Linked DNA regions of Homo sapiens. The main gene of each other region encodes a partner of the protein of the gene in region 2 in a complex. Each region holds a gene or a part of one and is shown on either strand. Other genes may lie near its edges.

Region 1 (4,289 bases), on a different chromosome or scaffold from region 2:
AGCCCGCTCCAGCCCCGACCCTGGGTAAACACGGCACAGAGACAAACACACCATCAGTGTTTATTGGTCAGCTGTCCCAAACGGGCCAGCCCTGGGGCTTTGGGGCTGGGCCTCCGTGAGGAGAGGTCAGTCGGTCAGCGGCCCGGGGTGGCTGCCCTGAGCCCCAGGGCTGGTCCTGGGGTCTGTCAGTCCTTCCCCAGGCTTTCCAGGTCCAGAAGGCTTTGTGGGGTCTGGGGCTGTGTCAGGGTAAGGAAAGCTGCCTTGGTGGAGGAAGAGAAGTCAGAGAGGTCACACATGTGGCCTTAGAACCTGCTAAGTCCAACGTCAGCATGTGACAGGAGGGGAAGTGAGGCAAGACGGCAGAACCCAGGGGAAAAGGTGGCAGGGAGTCTGAGAGTGAGGTTGGGAGGACCAGCATCTTTTAGGCCCTGAGCAAGAAGGAGGTGACCGGAGTCTTCCAGGTATCCCTCCCTCCTAGCTTCTGGAAGTGGGAGTCGGGGAGGGGGCTCCAGTCAGTCAGGTGTAAGCTCCATGCCATGGGGACTCTGCAGGACAGGCAGGCTTGAGGAGCCACTGTGCCTGGACAGGTTCTGCAGGCTCCCCCACTTGGTCCCTGTGCTGGAGGGGAAGCAGAGAAGGGGCTGGCAGCCTCATCCCTGCGGGACCTTCACTGAGCCTTCTTGGTCACTCTCTTGGTCTTCAGCATCACATAGGAGATGAACAGTCCTGGGATACACAGACCAGAAAGGCCACATAAGATCTAAGCTCAGGGCTGCTGGGAGGCCAGGGCATGACACAGCAGAGCCACCCACACACAGGGCTGTGAACCTACCCAACCATCCTCCAGGGAACCTGCTTATCTCCCTAGTCATTCGTCAAGGCATATGTCTACTCACATTCACTCAACAAACACCAACTGAGTGCCTGCCTCAAGCAAGATGCTGCATTTAGTGTTTCAGATTCCAAGGGGAACAAGATCCACCCATCTATCGATCACCCGGTCAACCACTTGTCTGTCCACCTACATACCTACCCACCTCCTCCTACACCTCACCCACCCACCCATCCATCCACCCATCATCCAGGCACCCGGCTGTTGACTGACTCATCCAAATGACTTTCTGAGCACAGCCTCAGTGCCACAGCCTGTTCTAGATGTGCAGTAATGATGGAGACACAGTCCCCATCCCTAGGAAGCCATGAGAGAGAGAGGTGCAGGAATTAGAAGCCAGGGTGACAAGAGGGTGACTGAGGTGTGAGCAGAGTGATGATGGGGTTGGGGCAGGAAAGAGGTAGACAGGTCATTGGAGTCCAAAAAGCCTGGGGCACCAGGAAACCCAGAGGTTACTGACTGGCAGCCTCGAAGGATGAACAGGAAAACCCCACGGGTGAGTTCGGGGCAAGCAGCTTCCAGCACCGCCAAAGTGTGGAAGCATGTTCAGAGGTGGGGTCTTCCCGAAACCCTGCCCAGGGTCAAGGGGAGGAGGTGATGACTTACCCACAAACAGGAGCAGCAGGAGGCCTGCAGCCAGTGGGATGGCGACAGCATAGGCTCGGGGCAGGAAATACTTGTGGATGACATGCTGACTGTCGATGAATGGCTGGCATCGAGGGAAGAGCTCTGGTGTGTCTTGCTTGCCTTGCCGAGCCCCCAAGCCCAAACGTCCCACCTCCTCCATCTAAGGGGCTGACCCATTCAGAGGACTGGGACTGCATTTGCTTTTCTTTAAGATTACGGCATTTGGGTGTCGTGGTTTGTTTCTTTCCTTAATTTCTTATTGGTATTTACCGGGCACTTGCTTTGGTGCCTGCTATAGGTTGGTGGTGGGGACAAGAGAACAGGGCACAAGAGACCTGCCCTAAGGCACCTCACAGCCTAGCAAATGGTACTTGAGGAATCCTCGACTGACTCCCAACCTGGGCCTCCAGGGCTTCTTCACTAATATTTTTTCTCTAAAGGATACCAAGTTCTGCACTTCCAGACACACTGCACTTCTTAAGCAATAACCAACAAGTTTTCCCACAAGAAAAAAATATCCTAAAGGCCTTCACAAATATCACTGGCGTTTGCCATGCCTAAGAGTCAGCAGGCTAACCCAGAAGGAACAGAACTCCCCCAAAAGTCAAAGCAAGCCGGAAACAGAGTTATAAGTGTAGCGGCTAAGGATGCAATCTTGGGCCAGATCCTTCTCCCCTAGCCTCAGCTATCTCATCTATAAAATGCGGTACCACTGGCATCTTCCTCATAGAGTTGTTCTGGAGAGTTCAAGAGATGAGGCAGGCAATGAAGCCAGCGCCGTGCCTAGAGCCTATATAGTAGTTGCTCTGGCGGTGCCAGGGCTCGGGGAAGGTGAGCAGCGGACGGGGAGAATGACATACCAAGAGAATCACCCAGGCGGTGTAGTAGGTGAAGATGATCAGGCTAACGGCGACGAGGCCGAGTCCCACCACCTGGTCTGTCCCCGTGGCCTGGAGAAAAGGGAGGTCTCAGCTGACGAAGTGACCCTCTATTTCGGCGCACTAATGGAAGCGGGGCGTCGCGGCCCGATCACGGTCTAAGCTTCCCATTCAACAGATGGTAGAGGGCTGACTAGGGATCAGTTTCTAGGCTGGGAGAGAATGCTAGGCCTCCGCGTTGTCGTCCGTACAATAGTGGGGGCGGGAGAGCAATCCCCGTTCCAAGTGCCCATGCCCCAGCTCCTGAGCAGACCCGGGACCCCACCCCCAGACGCCCCTATCTCCGGCACACGGTGCCAATCTCACCATTTCCCCGCGCGCTCAGCCACCCGAGCCGCAAGCCACATCCGGTTCCGGGTCCACGCTCTTCCGGCTTTGGACTGCGGAGCACGCCGGGAGTCGTAGTCCCCAGGCCTGCTCGGGCCCACCTCGTCGGAGACGAGCAGGAACCGCCTCCTCTTCTTTGCATATCGGCGAAGTGTAGTTCTCAAGAGCATTGTGGGGCCGGTTGCTGCCCGAATCTCTCTAGGGAATGGGACCGAGTTGGGGACCCAGACTCCCTGGCCTTCATGGCCACAGTCCTGTCGCCGCCCCACCAAAAGCCAATCTCTAAGTATCCCAGAGTCCCGGGGCCAGAGTGGGATGGGAGTGCGGGATCGGAAGTTCCATTTTTCAGATGGGAAAAGTGAGGCTCAGAGAAAGGTAGATCCCATTCCGAGTCAGTGGTGAAGCCGACACGGAAACCGGGTGCCCTACTTAGTCTGTAGGTGGGAGAGGTGCAGAGAACGTTCACTTTCCAGCCTAGGGTGGGCGGGGGAGGGTCTGTCCCTAGCCCGCATGGATGGGGAGGATTTGGTGGAGAGGAGGCGCCCTCCTCACCATCGCCCGGCCTCCCGGGCCACCCTTCGGATGTCCCCTCCCTTCCTTCACCGACTGTCTCTCGCAGCAGCCCAGACACGTTTCGGACCGGGACCCACGCACAGGCCCCTCCCCGGTCTTGGAAGGCCCTTCCTCTGAGAACAAAGAGATGTTGGGCCAGATCATCTTCCACGCTTCTTCAGCTCCGAGATAGGAACGCGGTCCCCCACCACTCACAGGCCGGCTGCTCCTCACCCATCCGGTCTCACTGGGACGCCACGTTCCTCAGGGAAGCCAGTCGGGAACGTTTTTTTTGTTTGTTTGTTTGTTTTTGAGACGGAGTTCTATGTTATCCAGGCTGGTGTCGAACTCCTGGGCTCAAGCGATCCTCCCAACTCGGCCTCCAAAAGTTTACAGGCGTGAGCCACGGTGCCCAGCCTCCTGTGCCTTTTAATTCACTGATGCAATTGTTGATCCAGCCCTGTCAGCCCCGAGGGTAGGGTCTGAGGTTGCTGCTGTATCCCTGGCACTCAGTGGAGGCTTGGCCCAAAGAAAGAGGTTTTTTTGTTTTTTTTTTTTTTTCCCAAGACGGGAGTCTCACTCTGTCACCCAGGCTGGAGTGCAGTGGCATGATCTCAGCTCACTGCAACCTCTGCCTCCTGGGTTCAAGCGATTCTTCTGCCTCAGCCTACCGAGTAGCTGGGATTACAGGCACGTGTCAACACGCCCAGCTAATTTTTGTATTTTTAGTAGAGATGGGTTTTCACCATGTTGGCTAGGTTGGTCTCAAACTCCTGACCTCAGGTGATCCACCCACCTCAGCCTCCGAAAGTGCCTGGATTACAGGCGTAAGCCACTGCGCTCGGCCCAAAGTAAGAGCTTTGAACCTGTCAGCTTTAAGATTGAGTGATTGTTTAGATACTGGAGTACAGCATCTGGACTCCAGGCCTCCCTGAGGGGTTATGTGGAGGCCT
Region 2 (3,722 bases):
TCCTCTTATCTCAGCCACCTGAGTAGCTGGGACTACAGGCATGTGCCACCACACCTGGCTAATTTTTGTATTTTTTGTAGAGACAGGGTCTCACTAGGTTGCCCAGGCTGGTCTTGAACTCCTGGCCTCAAGCGATCCCCCCATGTTGGCCTCCCAAAGTGTTGGGATTATAGGCATGAGCCACCATGCCTGGCCCAAACATTTTCATTAAAAGACTAGATAGTAAATATAGCAGGTTCTGTGGGGTCTGTCTCATAATATTCTTTTCTTTCTTTCTACAACCCTGTAAAAACTTAAAAATCATTCTTTGCTTGAGATGGGCCAGACAAAACCAGACCACAGGCCCAAATAGTTTACAGATCCCTGATCTAACACTATGGGTTAACTATGAAAAAGTAGAAAGAGACCATCAAAGAAAACCAGAGCTAGTGAGTAGTTGAAGTGGTACAAAAACCAGATGTTATTCAGGAACTATTACAGTAGGGGAAAAGAGACTTCAGTATAGACTTCCAAATTTCCTCAGTTCCGAATATAGCATGGACAAGTGGAGATTTATAGCCAAGGAGCAAGGTGGGAGTCAGTGGATGGAAAATTACCCAAAGGAAACATCAGGGGCAAGGTGGGATTCTGGCTAAATTGACTTGACAGGATTCTTGCTGAAGGCATGCCAGGCTGATCAAATACCAAGGGTGGGAGTTCTTTCTAAACTGATTCAGCAAGATTCTTGCTACAATTGGGTGGGTAGTGCAGGCCCAACAAAGATGTCAAGGTCAGGGCCTAGACAGCTTAGAGGAACCTGACTAGAAGTAGATAAAGGAGGGCATCTTGTCAGTGCAAAGAATAATAAGACACTTCCTGCCCTCAAGGAATGCAGTCCAAAATTACAAAATTTCTTTGATTCTAGGTCATCAATAATTTTTTTCCTGTGCCAGTCTTCTAAATCATAGCTTTGCCGGGTGCGGTGGCTCACACCTGGAATCCCAGCACTTTGGGAGGCTGAGGCGGGTGGATTGCCTGAGGTCAGGAGTTCGAGACCAGCCAGGCCAACATAGTGAAACCCCATCTCTACTAAAAAAAAAAAAAAAAAAAAAAAAATTAGCTGGGCGTGGTGGCGGGTGCCTGTAATCCCAGCTACTAGGGAGGCTGAGGCAGGAGAATCACTTGAACCCGGGAGGTGGAGGTTGCAGTGAACCGAGATCACACCATTGCACTCCAGCCAGGGAAACGAGTGAAATTCTGTCTCGAATCAATGAATGAATGCAAGCTTCTGGGAAAAAAGATAAAACAATGCCACATGAAAGAAACACACACCAATAGGAAAACACATTTTAACTTCAGAAATGTTAAAGATTATACATTGGTCTTAGAATCAAGGGAATAAATAATAGACACCATTTTTTGAGCCCTTAACACATCACTTAGTCAACTGTAAGTAACACAGAACAACTAAAATAGCCTTAAGAGATAAGGACCTTTTATATTAACAAGAAGTCATAAGGTAGGAGGGCTCCAGAGTTCACGTGGAGACTCATTTGATTCCGGCTCTTGTCATCTTACTGCTGACACCCTTAGTGTGCCCTACTTGTCCTCCACCTGGTCCTCCAAGTGCAGAAACTGCACTTCCACCCTTAGCGTCCTCTAGTTGTCCTCTACTAGCTCTCCACTGGGTCTGGCAGAGGCCATAGTAGTTCCAGGTATCTAAACCTCATGATGAAGGGAACGTCTCTTCTGCAGATTTTTAAAGATAAACTCAAGTTTTCCAGAAGCCCCTCCAGCAGATCTCCCCTCACATTTCATTGGCCAGAGTTGTGTCACATGCCAATTTTTAAAGCAGTCATTGGCAGAAGGAGTGGGAACCAATCATGGTTCACTCACTGTTCAATTGGGGCTGGTGGGTGGCTGTTTATTAGGCAAGCCATAGTATCTGCTACACTGTGCTAAGCACTTTATAATTGTTCAGTCTATGATTTTGCACTATATACAGATGGTTCCCAACTTACGATGGTTTGACTTAGGATTTTTTTGACTTTAGGATGATGCGGAAACAATACAAAGTCAGTAGGAACGGTACTTCAAGTAGGAACGGTACTTCAAGTACCCATACAAACATTGTTTTTCACTTTAAGTATAGCATTGAATAAATTATATGAGATTTACCACACGTTACTGTAAAATCAGATTTTATGTTACATGATTTGCCCAACTGTAGGCTAATGTAAGTGTTCTTTTTTATTTTTTTTATTTTTATTTTTTTTAGACGGAGTCTCGCTCTGTCACCCAGGCTGGAGTGCAGTGGCGCGATCTCGGCTCACTGCAAGCTCCACCTCCTGGGTTCACGCCATTCTCCTGCCTCAGCCTCCCGAGTAGCTGGGACTACAGGTGCCTGCCACTACGCCCGGCTAACTTTTAGTATTTTTAGTAGAGACGGGGTTTCACCGTGGTCTCGATCTCCTGACCTCGTGATCCGCCCGCCTCGGCCTCCCAAAGTGCTGGGATTACAGGCGTGAGCCACCGCGCCCGGCCTAATGTAAGTGTTCTGAGCACGTTTAAGGTAGGCTAGGCTAAGCTCTGATGCTTGATAGGTATATTAAATGCATTTTTTAATTTTAATTTTTTATTTGAGTGCTAGAACTAAATATTAAATGCATTTTCATCTTATAATGGGTTTATCAGGACATAACTCCCTCCTGTATTCTGCTGAGGGAGTGTGAAAGGAAAAGATTTGGGGTCCTTTTTTTTTTTGAGATGTCTCACTCTGTCATCAGGCTGGAGTGCAGTGGTGCGATCTCGGCTCACTGCAACCTCCGCCTCCGCCTCCCAGGTTCAAGCGATTCTCCTGCCTCAGCCTCCAGAGTAGCTGGGACTAGAGGCACGTGCCAACACGCCCAGCTACTTTTTGTATTTTTAGTAGTGATGGGGTTTCACCATGTTGGCCAGGATGGTCTCGATCTCTTGACCTTGTGATCCACCTGCCTTGGCCTCCCAAAGTGCTAGGAGTACAGGCGTGAGCCACCTCACTCGGCTGGGTCCTTTCGATTTTTAGAGACAGTGTCTTATGCTGGTACCCAAGCTAGAGTGCAGTTCTATGATCATAGCTCACTGCAGCCTCGAACTCCTGGGCTCAAACGATCCTCCTGCCTCAGCCTCCCTAGTAGCTGGAATTACAGGTGCAAGCTACTGCGTTCAGCTGATTTAGGCCCTAAAGTTGGAATTTTGGAAGAAAAATTTCTGAGATTGCTGTGATGGACATTTTGCTGATGGAGGTTTCCCCTAGACCTATCCATTTGTTGTCTGGATCTGTTTCACTGTATACTTTCATAGCACCTTAGAACCCAAATAAAAGCAATTTCCTTTTCCTCCATGCATGTTCCCCTCATTGCCTGGAGTTGACTGGTACCACTTGGTAATCTTACTGTCTGTGTCTGGCTCTCTCTTCAGAACAGCATGATCCTCTCTGCTGCCATCTTCATCACCCTCTTAGGTCTGCTTGGTTATCTCCATTTTGTGAAGATTGATCAGGAGACTCTGTTAATCATTGATTCCCTTGGCATTCAGATGACTTCATCTTATGCTTCAGGCAAAGAAAGCACTACCTTCATAGAAATGGGCAAGGTCAAGGATATTGTCATCAATGAGGCCATTTACATGGTAAGTATTTAAAAGGTAAGTATTACAGGCCTCTCTGGAGGAGGTAGCCAGCCCATGGGATGTTCCCAGATTTA
Region 3 (3,506 bases), on a different chromosome or scaffold from region 2:
CCAGGCCATACTGTGTAGTGATTTAAGTAATAGGGCTCAAATCATGTAAATTGCTCTGCACATACAGATTTGGACAAGTCTCTTCCTCAGTAACTTACACAACACAAGGCTTGTACGTGTAAAGCATCAATTTTAATAAAAAGGCCATTTTCCTGTTTACAAATGGCACTTTAACATTAAATTATCAAAGTTTATTAATATTATTACATACAGACTAGTTTTGGAGAAGATAAAGTTTGATATGTGTAACAAAAGTTAGAAATAATGTTCGCTGTATGAGTTTTAACCCAACTGCTTTATAAGGCTGTTTCTATTAGATCAGTGTTTGGTGATACTAATCTTGAGGTGGAGAACATTAGCAGCAATAAGAATTTAAGTGTAATATAAATAGCAGACTTGGTTTATAAATTAAATTTCTTTTGTAGCATGAGTTTTCACTCCTTTCTTCCCCTCTCATTTAAAAAATCAGGGTGCGTCTTTTGGGAGCTTTAGAACACAAGGATGTTAGAAATGTCTTAGTTCAAGGACATATTTTTCTGAATACCTCCCTTACTGAAGCATTCTGCATGGCGATCGTGGAAGCAGCCAGTTGTGGTTTACAGGTAAAAAGCTTTGAGGGCATTCATGGTTGGGATTTCTGTGTATTTTGAAAAATAATGAGACACATTCCATAATAATGTTTTAACTGGTTTTGTTGATCTTCCTGAGGTATGATTATGGTGGAGTATGTGTTCTTTCTTTCTTTTTAAGGTTGTAAGTACCAGAGTTGGTGGAATTCCTGAGGTGCTTCCAGAAAACCTTATTATTTTATGTGAGCCTTCAGTAAAATCTTTGTGTGAAGGATTGGAAAAGGCTATTTTCCAACTGAAGTCAGGGACATTGCCAGCTCCAGAAAACATCCATAACATAGTAAAGACTTTCTACACCTGGAGGAATGTTGCAGAAAGAACTGAAAAGGTATGTCACATGCTGAGAAAAGATTGTGTCTGAACTCTTACTTGATGTTTCACGTACACATTTGCTTTTTCTTACATAGATGTTTACCATTTTTGTTCTATTGCTTAAGTTGATGAAATCTCTTCCAGGTGAAAAGAAACAGATTTTGGTACACACACCGGGCTAAGTGTCTGGTCAAATTATTGCGTTTGACATTTGAAAATAGCAGTAATACAGTCTAGCCCCCTCATTAAACTGGGCATAAAGAAGTTACAAAATTTTCTAAAAGTCACAATGAGTAGAGACAAGACGAGTATTAAATCTACTCTTAGATATTTTCTTGAAGCTGTTGATAATTCTAAAGCAAACATCTCTATTAGGAAATGCATGGTTTTGCTGATTGCAGCAACTTTATAACTTGTGAATATTTAATTCAGGCTACTTCCTAAACCTCTTGTAGCCCTTTTGCTAACTACTGTGATTTTCTCCAGGAAAAGGATTTTTGCATCTTTGGGCTGATTGAGAACATAGTAAGTTAGAATTCAAAATGTACGTGACAAACGTGGGAAAAATCACAAATAAAAAGCAGCAACAGAGAATTTCCAAAAGGACAGGTATAGGAAATAGATTAACACCCTTAGGTAGGAGATTACAGTTGTGGGAAATGCTTCCTGAATTTGAATTAGGGACTGCTTTCATTCTCAGTTTCATCCTTTACGTCCTTTTCATGATGTTCTCTGCCTCATGCCTCTTATTACCATGTAACAAGCTGAACAGAAACAACTCAGCTTCTTAGTATGTAGAAATTGTGAACCAGAAAGATAACCAGGTGGAACATGGAGAAGGTAGTAGTTTAGAGTAATGCTACCAACGTGATATTCAGTGGAGCAATGAGTTTTTAGCCTAGAGTAGATAGCAAGTTGGAGCTGAGGAGAATAGCTCTTTACTGTAAGGCTTTCTTACTTGGTTTGAATGATGAATTCCAGTATATAAGATGAACTCATATGTGAATGGAAGTTCTAAAAACTTATCTCTAAAAATTGTCTTATACATTTTCCATTGAAACATGAGATGTTTGCGACAGTCAAACATTTTTGACTGAAGCATTTTGAGACATTCTGACCTTCTACAAGTCTTGTACTATCTCTCCCATATGAAACATGGAAAGTTGGAGTCTAGTGCTTACCTGTTGGGAGTACATGTCAGAGTCCCCGGGCAGCCTTTTCAGACTCTCTCTACTCCATCTTGATGTCCCCCTGCCTCCCCAACCACTCCCTAGATTCCAGTGTTATCCTTTAGGAGCAGAGATAGAATTGGGGGTATAATTGGCAGGGATATTTGGTCAGACAGGTTATTTTGATGATACCATCCTGATCTCCACTCCCTTTGAGAACCATGGCACTGTTAAGTTGTGACTTGACCTTCTTCATTGACATCGTATAAACCCCAGAAGCCTGAGCCACTGTAGGTAATAAGTTAACAGGGAAAGAACTGTGGTGACGGTTTGTCAGCATATAGTAAAGGGGCTAATTGGGATTTTTTTGGTAACCACATTTTTCTTTTGGTTAAAGTAATAGTACAGCATCTGTATTTTTTTTAATTCTATGGTGATTTATAATACACTTTTAGAAAAAAGTAAATCCTTGCCTATAATGGATTGTCATCGCTAACATTCTCTTCATAATAGTAAATTGTTATTTTATCACTTAAAACTATAAGTAGATTAATTGACCTGAAATAAAGCTGGACAAAAAAGTCAGTTTGTAGTTACTCTTTTAACCCTATGACATTTTAATTCATTTCAACTCCTCCTTCTTAGTTTAACTGTGCTATTTAGGAAATCGATCATGAAATTAATTTGGAGTTCATGCTGTAAACATACTTCTTCAATTGCAATTCACCAGTCTCAGCATAATTCTCAACATAATTCTGATTAAAATGTTTGTATTCAGAATGTCCTCAGGGTAAAAGAGCTCGATGAAAACATGCCGTACCTTTCAAGGGCTGTTGACCTGTACAACATGCACTGCATGTTATAACTTCCTTGAGTTCAAAAGGAGACGGTTTAAAGGTCTAATATATGAGACTAAGCACAAGTAATACTCAAATTACAAAATATGAATGTTGGCCCATTTGATGTGTTCTGAACAAGTATGTTTAAAGATCTTCGTTTTTTGATATTTTAGAGCTTAGTACTTAGCAGTGTTTTAAAAAGCAAGCCACCTACTTGCTCAGCAAAAAACGTTATTTCATTTGCCAGCATTTGACCTATACTATCTACTGAAATTTCCCCCATCTCTTTATCTTCTTTTATTTGAAATCCATGAAATGCTTCTGCATGTCCTCACCATCCATGCTCAGCAACATGTACAGCCTCATGTGGCTGTTGAAAGAGGAGGCTCTGTGTTCCCAGAAGTATGCTAGATTGTAGCTCTCTGCTTGTGGTTGATGTCTGCCAGATGCCGGTGAGAGCATCTCAGCTTAGTCAAGGAATCTTCAAAGGCAAATCCTGCTTCAGTACTGCTGAAGTCACTGCTGAATTAAATATTGACCCTACAGTGGTGACCCCA

What was found.
Region 1: PIGH (region 2) and DPM2 share a complex: the UniProt entries of both Homo sapiens proteins name them as parts of the glycosylphosphatidylinositol-N-acetylglucosaminyltransferase (GPI-GnT) complex.
Region 3: PIGH (region 2) and PIGA share a complex: the UniProt entries of both Homo sapiens proteins name them as parts of the glycosylphosphatidylinositol-N-acetylglucosaminyltransferase (GPI-GnT) complex.

Annotation. Positions count from the first base shown.
Region 1 is NC_000009.12:127,935,055-127,939,343, forward strand, and holds DPM2 (dolichol phosphate-mannose biosynthesis regulatory protein), read right to left. Parts: upstream 2,801-4,289; 5' UTR 2,767-2,800; coding exon 2,764-2,766; intron 2,470-2,763; coding exon 2,380-2,469; intron 2,257-2,379; coding exon of another isoform or gene 2,161-2,256; exon of another isoform or gene 1,763-2,160; intron 1,725-1,762; exon of another isoform or gene 1,602-1,724; coding exon 1,499-1,601; intron 727-1,498; coding exon 668-726; 3' UTR 45-667; downstream 1-44. UniProt on the Homo sapiens protein: Regulates the biosynthesis of dolichol phosphate-mannose. Regulatory subunit of the dolichol-phosphate mannose (DPM) synthase complex; essential for the ER localization and stable expression of DPM1.
Region 2 is NC_000014.9:67,593,669-67,597,390, reverse strand, and holds part of PIGH (phosphatidylinositol N-acetylglucosaminyltransferase subunit H), read left to right. Parts: intron 1-3,438; coding exon 3,439-3,648; intron 3,649-3,722. UniProt on the Homo sapiens protein: Part of the glycosylphosphatidylinositol-N-acetylglucosaminyltransferase (GPI-GnT) complex that catalyzes the transfer of N-acetylglucosamine from UDP-N-acetylglucosamine to phosphatidylinositol and participates in the first step of GPI biosynthesis.
Region 3 is NC_000023.11:15,322,116-15,325,621, reverse strand, and holds part of PIGA (phosphatidylinositol N-acetylglucosaminyltransferase subunit A), read left to right. Parts: intron 1-469; coding exon 470-602; intron 603-750; coding exon 751-957; intron 958-3,506. UniProt on the Homo sapiens protein: Catalytic subunit of the glycosylphosphatidylinositol-N-acetylglucosaminyltransferase (GPI-GnT) complex that catalyzes the transfer of N-acetylglucosamine from UDP-N-acetylglucosamine to phosphatidylinositol and participates in the first step of GPI biosynthesis.